Homo sapiens: one gene and its partners. The protein of the gene in region 3 interacts with the protein of the main gene of each other region in a pairwise test. Each region holds a gene or a part of one and is shown on either strand. Other genes may lie near its edges.

Region 1 (3,749 bases), on a different chromosome or scaffold from region 3:
ACCGCCACACCCAGCTAATTTTTGTATTTTTAGTAGAGACGGGGTTTCACCATGTTGGCCAGGCTGTCTCCAACTCCTGACCTTAAGTGATCCGCCAGCCTCGGCCTCCTAAAGTGCTGGGATTACAGGCGTGAACCTCTTCGGCCAGCCTCCCAGCTTATTTTTGTATTTTCTGTAGACACGAGGCTTTGCCCTGTTGCCCAAGCTGGTCTCCAACTCCTGAGCTCAAGTGATCCTCATGCCTCAGCCTCCCAACGTGCTGGGACTACAGGCATGAGCCACTGTACCCAGACTATTGTTTTTTACTAAAGGAGACTTACTAGAAAACTGACAAAATCCAGGCTGGGCGTGGTGGTTTACGCCTGTAATCTCAGCACTTTGGGAGGCCAGGGTGGGTGGATCACCTGAGGTCAAGAGTTTGAGACCAACCTGACCAACATGGTGAAACCCTGTCTCTACTAAAAATACAAAAATTAGCCGGGTTTGGTGGCGCACGCCTGTAATCCCAGCTACTCGGGAGGCTGAGGTAGGAGAACCACCTGAACCTGGGAGGCAGAGGTTGCAGTGAGCTGAGATCGTGCCATTGCACTCCAGCCTGGGCAACAAGAGCGAAACTCGGTCTTGGAAAACAAACAAACAAAAAAACCTGACAAAATATCAAAGATAATTATAACCCTTAGGGGTCCCAGATTTCTCTTCCTCAGGAAATGGCAAGGGGGTGCGGGAGAGGGGCCATCCGCTTTGGCTGGCTTAGTTTCCTTTCCACAACCCTTTCTGGAGAAACACTAAATGCCACCATTTTTTGGTCCTTGGCCTGGAAATTTCCCTATCTGCACCCCCTGCGCTGTAGCTTAGGCTATTCAGCAGAGATCTGCAGGCTCCAGCGGGCGTCGGACTTACAGAGGCAAATGTGACCATGTAAATTCCCAGGCCCACCCGTGACAGAGAGCCTCTGATTCAGCAGGCCTCCTTTGAGGCTGGGGATTTTAAACCCGCGTCCTGTGATTGGGATGGGGATTGAGGGCTATATTCAGCGCCTGGCCACCAGAGGGCGCAGCGGGCTGGGTTCAGCGGTACCCCTTTGAGATCTTGTGTCTCAAGACAGGTTGCTGTCATCAAGGATTTGCTGGTTAGACAACAGGCAAGGGGTGAGCTGGGTCCTCTTGGGCAGGAGCCTAGTAGGAAGACCGACAACAGGAAAGAGGCTCACATCTGATACTGGGCACATGGCTGGGCCTTGGTCCTCGTGCTCCCGGACTTCAGAGCTCAGAGGGGCCAGGGCCTGGCCTAGCCTGGAATCTGGATGGACCTCTTCTGCCCTGGGGCGCGCCGTTTACCCAATCCTGACCTCAGAGAGCGTCTGTCGTTCTGGTGGGAAAACCGAGACCCAGACAGGAACAAGGGCTCAGTGGCAACCGCTCTGCCTCCCAGCCCAGGGCTCTGTCTTGCCGGGGCTGGGGCACAGGGTGGACCCCAGGAAGTTCTGCTATGAGTCAGCTTCGAGTGCTCAGGGGACCGGACAGAGGCTGCTGGCCGGGGAAGGATGCCGGCCGGCGGTACCTACTTCCGCAGCTGTGGGTATCCCTGCCTGGTGATTCAGCTTCCCTCTGAGGGTCCCCAGGGGGCGCCGCCCTGGACTGGGAGGCTGGGGAGGATGCTGGGGCTACGGAGGGGCGATGGAGGTGCCTTAAGGGACCCCGTAATCCAGCTCTGCTGGATGCTGAGGTCCCACGAGATAATTGTGGCCAGAGATCAGGTGGGCGTAAGACTGGTCCTAGGATGGGGGCTGTGGGCCCCTCCTCACTACCCTGCTTCTTGAAGATAGCCTGGGCGGCTGTGCGGGATACCCCAGTGTCTCCAGCAATGCGCGTTCATCTCCATGGAGGGCTCGCCTTGGCGCTGGGTGGGGAGCGACTTGGTCCCCCCTGGCGGCGAAGAGAGGCTGACCACGCCAGCTCGTGGGGGGGTCTACTGGGCAGATGCGCAGGCCCCGGGCGGAGGAGGGCTGATGGGGGAAATGCCAGGCCGATGGGGGAGGGGCTGTGAGCGGGAGGCGTTGGGGCGGGGCAAGACCGCCCTCCCGGTCCGGGGGCGGGGCTTGGCCTGGGGCGGGGCTTGGCTGGGGTGCTCAGCCCAATTTTCCGTGTAGGGAGCGGGCGGCGGCGGGGGAGGCAGAGGCGGAGGCGGAGTCAAGAGCGCACCGCCGCGCCCGCCGTGCCGGGCCTGAGCTGGAGCCGGGCGTGAGTCGCAGCAGGAGCCGCAGCCGGAGTCACAGCCGCAGCCAGAGCCGCAGCCAAAGCCTCAGAGAGCAGGAGTTGGAGCGCAGGCCCTGCTGGATCCGCGCCTAGCTCGCCGCCAGGCACCGGCCGGAGGACGGGCCGTGGTGTCAGCTCACTGCCCGGGCGCTGTGGGAGGCAGCGAGCCCGCGACCCCCCGGGCCGGGCACCGCCAGGCGCGGAGCCCAGATCGCCCCCCTGCCAGGCCTGGTCACGGCCAGAGCACGCAGGAGTTCCCAGGGTCTGGATCTGCGCGCACCCTAATGACCTGGGGACTGAAGAGAAAAAAGGAACGAGGATTTCATCTAAAAGCATAACGTGGGCACTAGGCGAGGAGGAAAGTGGAGACCACCTGGCACGGGGCAGAGGTGCCTGGAGCCCACGCTTGAGCATCGGAGACCCTGGCATCCTAGCAGCCGCGACCTTGGCTCTGCCCTGTCTGAGCTGGAAACACAGCTTAGCTTCTAGACATCGCTGGCACAGGCCTGGCACAAGTAAGCAGTGTCCTCACCTGTCTGAAACGGGACACGGGGTCGGAGGAACCAGGATCTAGCCTGGCCCCAAGCGGAACTCTCTGGTGGCCCAGAGGTCGTCACTGGGGAGCCCGCCTCCTGCCCTAGCCTCACTGGTGCGGATGTGCCGCTGCCCGCCGGAGCACCATGATGGCAGGATGACCTCAGCCGAAGTAGGAGCAGCAGCTGGTGGTGCTCAGGCGGCTGGGCCCCCCGAGTGGCCCCCTGGCAGCCCTCAGGCCCTCCGGCAGCCTGGCCGGGCCCGAGTGGCCATGGCAGCACTGGTGTGGCTGCTGGCGGGAGCCAGCATGTCAAGCCTCAACAAGTGGATCTTCACAGTGCACGGCTTTGGGCGGCCCCTGCTGCTGTCGGCCCTGCACATGCTGGTGGCAGCCCTGGCATGCCACCGGGGGGCACGGCGCCCCATGCCAGGCGGCACTCGCTGCCGAGTCCTACTGCTCAGTCTCACCTTTGGCACGTCCATGGCCTGCGGCAACGTGGGCCTAAGGGCTGTGCCCCTGGACCTGGCACAACTGGTTACTACCACCACACCTCTGTTCACCCTGGCCCTGTCGGCGCTGCTGCTGGGCCGCCGCCACCACCCACTTCAGTTGGCCGCCATGGGTCCGCTCTGCCTGGGGGCCGCCTGCAGCCTGGCTGGAGAGTTCCGGACACCCCCTACCGGCTGTGGCTTCCTGCTCGCAGCCACCTGCCTCCGCGGACTCAAGTCGGTTCAGCAAAGTAAGTGCCTGGGTGGCCAATTGAGAAGGTGGGGGTCCGGGTGGGTGCATGGCCTGGATGGCCCTGTGAGGGGTATGGCTGTTGTCCCATTTTACAAATGAGGAAACTGAGGTTCATGGCTGTGGAGGAAGCAGAACTGAGGCTCAGAGAGGGCCAACAGTTCAGTGAGTTCCAGGCCCCAGACTCAGGCTCTGGAGGCCCAACTCGTGTTTATTTGTTT
Region 2 (3,749 bases), on a different chromosome or scaffold from region 3:
ATCTTCCACCATGTACCATGTATTGGATATATATTGCTGCATAACAAGTGACTTTAAAACTTAGGGGCCTAAGACAACATTTATTATCCCACAGTTTCTGTGGGTCAGGAGTCCAGGGAGGGTTTACATGGGTCCTCTGGCTTAGGAGGGTCTCTCCCAGGGCTGCAATCAAGATGTCAGCTGGGGCTGCCTTCATCTCAAAGCTCACTGGGGAAGGGTTCTTTTCTCCCTGAATATCGGCTGGAGGCTACTCTCAGGGGCCATATGTGGGCTTCTCCATAAGGCAGCTCACACTTAGCAGCTGCCTTCATGAGAGCAGGAAGGGCAAGAGAGAGAAGGCAAGCAAGAGGGAAATCGGTCTTTTGCAACCACATCCCATCACCTTTGCTGCATTATATTCATTATAATAGAATGTGGCCCCAGGCCAGCCCACACTCTAGGGAAGAGGACTACACAAGGCATGAATACCGGGAGGTGAAAACACAGGGCCATGTTAGAAGTTGTCCAGCACACCCCAGTATGTACCCTGTGCTCTCATCTCACAAAACTCACCCATGTTTCCCAAGGGGGAAAAAATGCTTTATTACCCATGTCTTACATTTGCTCATTAATTCACTCATTCAAAAAGTATTTTATTTCTACTGTGAGCTAGGTAGTGTTGTAAGGGCTAAGGATAGAGCAGTGAGCCAAAGAGACAAAGCCCCTCCCTCGTGGAGCAGACATTCTAGTAGGGAGATAAACAAACGATAAACAACCACACACTTAGTGCGACAGAGGGCAATGAGTTATAGCAGGCGAGGGGCATGAGGGGTGTCAGTGGAGGTGAGGATGTAGGATCTTATGTAGGGTGGCCTGGGAAGGCGTCTCTAAAAGCTTACCTCTGAGCAGAGACATGAAGGATGTGAGGAAGCCACCATGAGGCTATTTAAAAGAAGAGGGTCCTGGGCTGAGGGGGACATCATGTGCAAAGGTAGCTGATGTGTTCAAGGGGCACAAGAAGTTCTGTGTGATGGGAGCGGTGTGAGCAAAGGGGAAAACGCCTGGAGCTGAGGTCAGAAAGGAAACCAGGAGCCAGATCTTCTAAGGTCTTATAGGTCATGAAAAGGGCTTTGACTTTTATGCTAAGATGGGCGCCACTGGAGAATATCCCCTTAAAATGAGCTACTTTACATGCAGGAAAAAAACAAACAAAACTCCTTTCTTTATAATTTCAACATACCATTTTCAGTTCTCCCTTATAAAGAAGTATAATTTGCATTATAATGTAGCTACACATCTGAAATATGTATTCTTAATGGATCTCACATTTTCTAATTACTTACTTTAAAAGATAATATCTGAAAGCTTTGGGTGTTTGAGATGGCTTTTATCTCCAGATAAGGAAAGAGAAATCAAACAAAACCATTTCTGGGAAACCGAGGTCCATTTCTTGCCTAAAGTCAAACAACTTCAAAGAGTCTAGGCTAGAATCCAGGTCCAGGTAGACATCATTAATTTCACAAAGCCAGATGTCACCTGGCAGATCCCTGCCTGAGAGCCTAAAAGGACATGTTGTAAAGCAGGTGTCTAGGATCATAAAATGAGCTGATGCCTATGAATGGCCTAAATCCCAGTGAAGTAGTTACTAAAAAGCAGCCTGGTAACTGATTGGATACAATAAGGGCTAGAAGAGGTCTTGTTGATACTAGCACATTATCCAAACTTCCTGATGTCTGACCCAGGCCTTTGGTAAAGGACATTTTCTCAACATTGCCTTCACTGCATACCCAGCCCCAGGTTTCTCATATGACTGTGCAACCTAGAAGTCACCTTCAGACACCTTGGAGGGTCTATAGTCGGTAAACTTAGATAAGCAAATGAAAATTTACTTACTTGTATCAGGAAAGGAGAGGTCAGCACAGGGGCAGTTAGGAGAGGCTGGGTTGGGGACAGATTATTTAACAAAGGGAAGCACATATAAGAGAAGGTAAAGAAATATTCCACTTGCAAATCGCGGTACCTGTGGATGAGAGACATAGACGAGAGAGTGAGATGGCCTGGTTTGCCCTCTACCTCCTGAGCCTTCTCTGGGCTACAGCTGGGACTAGTACCCAGACCCAGAGTTCATGCTGTGAGTATGATGTTTTTCCAAGGAGGTCAGGGAAGCAGTTGCCCTGGGGAAGGGGCTGTGACCTCTGACACTGAGTGGTTGAAAATAGCAATCACTATAGGAATTCCAAAATGGGTAAGTCTGAGTGTGATTGTGTGCTGTTCATCCTTCCTGACTTAATAGCATAAGTTCTTTGAGAGACAAGTCTATATGTTTTTTATTAAGAGAGATGGGGCCAGGTGCAGTGGCTCACACCTGTAATCCCAGCACTTTGGGAGACTGAAGCAGGAGGATTGCTTGAGCCCAAGAGTTCAAGACCAGCCTGGGCAACATGGTGAGACTCCATCTCTACAAAAAAAATAAATAAATAAAAATAAAAAATTAGCTGGGCGCAGTGGCATGCACCTGTGGTCCCAGCTACTCAGAAAGCTGAGGTAGGAGAATCGCTTGAGCCCAGGAGGTCGAGGCTGCAGTGAGCTATAATCACACCACTGCACTCCAGCCTAGATGACACAGCAGCACCCTGTCTCAAAAAATCAATAAATAAAAATAATAGAGATGGAAGTACTACTGCAGGAATAATGGTTGATGGTACAAAGACAGACACTCAGTGGCTATTGTGACCAGACACCACTACATACTAGTGAGAGATTTTGGTACTCACTGAGGATAAATTATATCCCAAATCTTTAATACTCTTCATGAAAGAGTAAGGAAAAAAATGAATGCAAGGAAATCAGTGATTTCCAGGAAAGTGATAGAAACTATGAGAAATGTCATGAGCCATATTGCTTGAAGTTACTAAATTTAAAAATCACTTTCTTAAGGATATGGATTATTTGAGAAGATGTAGAAACTAATTGTCCTCAAAAGTAAAATCTCACCATTTTCTCCATTTCTCTTTAGTGACTTAGGACACTAATGCTAATCAAGTGTTCTCCTAAAAGGCATCAAAGATGGCCAGGCGAGGTGGCTCACGCCTGTAATCCCAGCACTTTGGGAGGCCAAGAAGGGTGGATTACCTGAGGTCAGAAATTCGAGACTACCCTGGCCAACATGGTGAAACCCCATCTCTACTAAAAATACAAAAATTAGCCTGGCGTGGTGGTGCACACCTGTAATCCCAGCTACTCAGGAAGCTGAGGCAGGAGAATCACTTGAACCTGGGAGGCAGAGTTTGCAGTGAGCCGAGATCGTGCCATTGCACTCTAGCCTGGGCAACAAGAGTAACACTGTCTCAAAAAAAAAAGAAAGAAAGAAAAAGCATCAAAGACACGGGGATAATGTTTTTGAGAAGGAATGAGGGTTAGAAGGTGAGTAAATGGCTTTCCTCTTCTCAGCCGTTCCCTCAGCACAGGAGCCCTTGGTCAATGGAATACAAGTACTCATGGAGAACTCGGTGACTTCATCAGCCTACCCAAACCCCAGCATCCTGATTGCCATGAATCTGGCCGGAGCCTACAACTTGAAGGCCCAGAAGCTCCTGACTTACCAGCTCATGTCCAGCGACAACAACGGTGAGACATCTGAGCCGCTCGCACTCTCCCTGAATCTCACACATCACATACCACCTCCAGATTCCAACTCAGCGTCCTTCCCACCCCAATGCTGCCTCTGACTGTAAATAAACTACCCAAACACCTTTCCTTACATACCTGGA
Region 3 (3,749 bases):
AAGACAGTGTCTACCTGGATTGTTTTATGCAAAGTTGTATGTGCCAATTGCCATAAAAGGAGAAATAGCACTAAATAGGAAGCTGGGTCCCTGTGGAAAAGCTGATGGAAGTGGCTGAGGGTTGGTTAGTGATTTCTTGGACGCTCTCTCTCCAAGTCTGTCTTTGATACTGCCTTATACCCTAAATATAGCACAGAGTCTCCCATCTCCCTGGGAGTGATAACCGCACCACTGTGGTGGCGCGTCTGAGCAATGAGAGGTGGCCTGGCTTTGGAAGGAATTCACATTTTCCAAGAGGGTGGCTGTGCTGTCTTTCCCTTCTTCTGCCTCTGTCTGCTCCATGGTCAGCACTCCACCCCATGCCATGGCTATACCCTGGACTCTGAATAGAGCAAAGGGGAAGGGTGGCCACCTGAAATCTGGGCCAGCTTGGCTTTGGCACTAAATAGCATCTTCTAAAGGCCTGATTCAGAGTTGTGGAAAATTCTCCCAGTGTCAGGGATTGTCAGGAACAGGGCTGCTCCTGTGCTCACTTTACCTGCTGTGTTTCTGCTGGAGAAGGAGGGAAGAGGAATGGCTGATTTTTACCTAATGTCTCCCAGTTTTTCATATTCTTCTTGGATCCTCTTCTCTGACAACTGTTCCCTTTTGGTCTTCTTCTTCTTGCTCAGAGAGCAGGTCTCTTTAAAACTGAGAAGGGAGAATGAGCAAATGATTAAAGAAAACACACTTCTGAGGCCCAGAGATCAAATATTAGGTAAATACTAAACCGCTTGCCTGCTGTGGTCACTTTTCTCCTCTTTCACATGCTCTATCCCTCTATCCCCCACCTATTCATATGGCTTTTATCTGCCAAGTTATCCGGCCTCTCATCAACCTTCTCCCCTAGCCTACTGGGGATATCCATCTGGGTCTGTCTCTGGTGTATTGGTGTGAAGTGATGTCTCAGGGACTTGTGCAAGTGTATTCGTGTGGGGTCATTTCTACCTACTTGTCTTTTACGTAAGTAAAATAATCAGTGTAATGTGGTATATGTGTCTAGATGTATAAACTAAAACTTTTATTCCACTATGTGTCTAGATGTATAACTAACATTTTTACTCCAGAGAAGCTTTGTCTCTAGCCAAACAAACACACAAACATCTGCGTATATGGAACACACAGTGTTAGTTTTATGTTAGCAATACTGGAGTTAAGAAGTATATAGTTATCATTGGTTTGACAACAGTCTGAGTAAAAAGAAAAGTCAGAGAACATTTCTTGACCAATGGGAGCATTGGGTTACATGGACTAATAGCAAAACATTATATTATCTTCCCTTATGTGTTTGAAACTGATCAAATTTGGAGTAGACTGACTTGTTATTTTGAGGCATATGAGCATATTTTATTCAGGCTACTAAGTATAAATCACCCATGCCTATAAAGTTAAACCTAATGCAAATTCTACTTAGAGTCATATTTTTTATTTCCTATTTCTTGGAGTAATTGGAAGTGCTCTGTATGCTTTGAGAGCAATAAAACGACATTAAATACTCTTCACCTCAGACTTTGTATAAACTGGACAGGCTCTCTAACCATTTAGTTGGAATTAAGAACATTTCGTTGTAGAGCTGAGAGTGAAGTGCAGAGTTCACAAATGTTTAGAATGTCTAGAAGAGACAGCACCTGACTCTCAGACCAGACCACTGCATTCTCCTTGGGCATCCTCTGTGGTTACTTGGCAGTCCCCCTTGCACAGAGCCATCCAGGGCCCATGCCATGGCCTTTGGATCAACAGGGGGGCTTCAGTGCTTTGCTGAAAGGGCCCTGGAACTCACTTGCAGCCCAGGAACAGCCAGTGCATCCAGAACCAGCTGACCACCAGCATGATGAGGGATATGGGGAAGCTGAAGAGGAACCAGGTGCCAAAGTTCACCACCTCTGCGGCTGGATACTGGCTGGAGGGTAAAGAACCAGGTCAGCAATTAGAAAGGGAGGGTTTCCATATGGTATTTTGGGGTAGTATGCCAAATGCTCCCTAAAACATACAGCTGGGCTAAGTGGGGAGATAATGATAACGATATGGTAAAACGTTGCCTAGGACTCATTTAGTTGACAGTTGCAATTGTACAGAGCCCAGACAAGAATCATGAAACTAGCTAAAAAAAGGAATCAAAACAACTAAAATTAATATCATTAAAGTGTATATACTTTGCACTCAAGAGAATGACTCAGGACGTGTTTGCCCTTAAAGATTCTGCTAAGTTTATTCATCTGGTTTTCAAGGCAACAGAAAATGGAACAGCTTGGTATACTTTGTTTCTAAAATCACCAAAGGAATGTAAGTTTTGATTGGGGGACACAATTCTGGAGAATCTGGAGCTTTAGGGCTTAATGAAGTTTTTAGATATTAACGGTGCCCATAAGAGAACCAGGACTTGGAATCTCCAAATCTTTATCAACATCCACTGGTCTCAGGGTAGAGGGGATTTGTATGGGGAACTGCTCATTCATCAGCAGGCAGAGCTGTGGCCCCTCAGCCCAAGTGCTGTTTCCTGGGGAGCCTGGATGGACCACGCGAGAGCTGTGGCTTTTGCCTAGACGAGGCTCAGGCCTAAATGACCTATGCTGTGTTTTCCTTGGGTCTCTGTTTTTGGGGCTGGGCGTAAAACTCCTCAAGTTGTGAGACATCCCTCTATCAGTGATCCCTTCTCCCAGATCTTTAACTTCCCTCTCATCTGGATCATCCCTACCAGCATCTAAATGTCTCCCATCTTGAAAACTCCGTCTTGACCCTGCTCTACTTTCCTTTTATTTTTTTATTTTTATTTTTTTTTGAGACGGAGTCTTGCTCTGTCGCTTAGGCTGGAGTGCAGTGGTATGATCTCAGCTCACTGCAACTTCCGCCTTCTGGGTTCAAGCAATTCTGCTGCCTCAGCCTCCCAAGTAGCTGGGATTACATACAGGAGCACACTACCATGCCCAGCTAATTTTTGTATTTTTAGTAGAGACGGGGTTTCGCCATGTTGGCCAGGCTGGTTTTGAACTCCTGACCTCAGATGATCTGCCTGCCTTCGCCTCCCAAAATGCTGGGATTACGGGCATGAGCCACAGTGCCCGTCCCCTACTTTCCTTTTATTATCACCCCACATCTCTCCTTCCCTTCACAGCCAGCTCTCCATTTTCTCACCTCTACCTTAGTCCTCAACTCACCAGAATCTGGCTGCTTCTCCCACCTCTTGACCAAGGTCCTCTTGCCTACATCACCAGTAACCTCCACATCACCAAATCTAATGGATACGTTTTCATCCTTACTTTGCATCATCATTCATTGACATTAAATATTGTAGGCACTTCCTTTTTCTTGAAATACTTTCCTCCCTTGGGTAGAGTGGCACCAGATTTCCCTTCCCTCTCTGCTGTCTGATATTGTTTCCTTCTGTCCGTTAAATATGTGAGCTTAATATTTATGTCCTCTGTTCTCCTTACCCTGTATATTCTAGGTAATTTCCTCCACTCCCGTAGCTTCCCTTACCAGGAGGCAAAATGAATATGTGGCCCCTTTACCCAAAGGTTATTATGAATATCCAGGCAGGGACAGCAGAGCATTAAACCAAGCGTGACGCCTGTCTGGGCATGGTGGCCCTGTGTCCCTGTACAGGCGGCACGCCCATGACCCCAGCGCTGCAGGCCGCTCTCTTCAAATCTATGCCTTCAGCCTAAGCATTAATATTTGCCTTGACATTCACAGGTCTGTTTTCACCTGGA

What was found.
Region 1: the proteins of SLC13A4 (region 3) and SLC35E4 interact in binary tests that used the Homo sapiens proteins (3 or more experiments, as listed by UniProt).
Region 2: the proteins of SLC13A4 (region 3) and CBLIF interact in binary tests that used the Homo sapiens proteins (3 or more experiments, as listed by UniProt).

The regions. Positions count from the first base shown.
Region 1 is NC_000022.11:30,633,541-30,637,289, forward strand, and holds the start of SLC35E4 (solute carrier family 35 member E4), read left to right. Parts: upstream 1-2,240; 5' UTR 2,241-2,910; coding exon 2,911-3,529; intron 3,530-3,749. UniProt on the Homo sapiens protein: Putative transporter.
Region 2 is NC_000011.10:59,843,736-59,847,484, reverse strand, and holds the start of CBLIF (cobalamin binding intrinsic factor precursor), read left to right. Parts: upstream 1-1,985; 5' UTR 1,986-2,031; coding exon 2,032-2,110; intron 2,111-3,429; coding exon 3,430-3,606; intron 3,607-3,749. UniProt on the Homo sapiens protein: Promotes absorption of the essential vitamin cobalamin (Cbl) in the ileum. After interaction with CUBN, the CBLIF-cobalamin complex is internalized via receptor-mediated endocytosis.
Region 3 is NC_000007.14:135,693,549-135,697,297, forward strand, and holds part of SLC13A4 (solute carrier family 13 member 4), read right to left. Parts: intron 1,940-3,749; coding exon 1,820-1,939; intron 691-1,819; coding exon 589-690; intron 1-588. UniProt on the Homo sapiens protein: Sodium:sulfate symporter that mediates sulfate reabsorption in the high endothelial venules (HEV).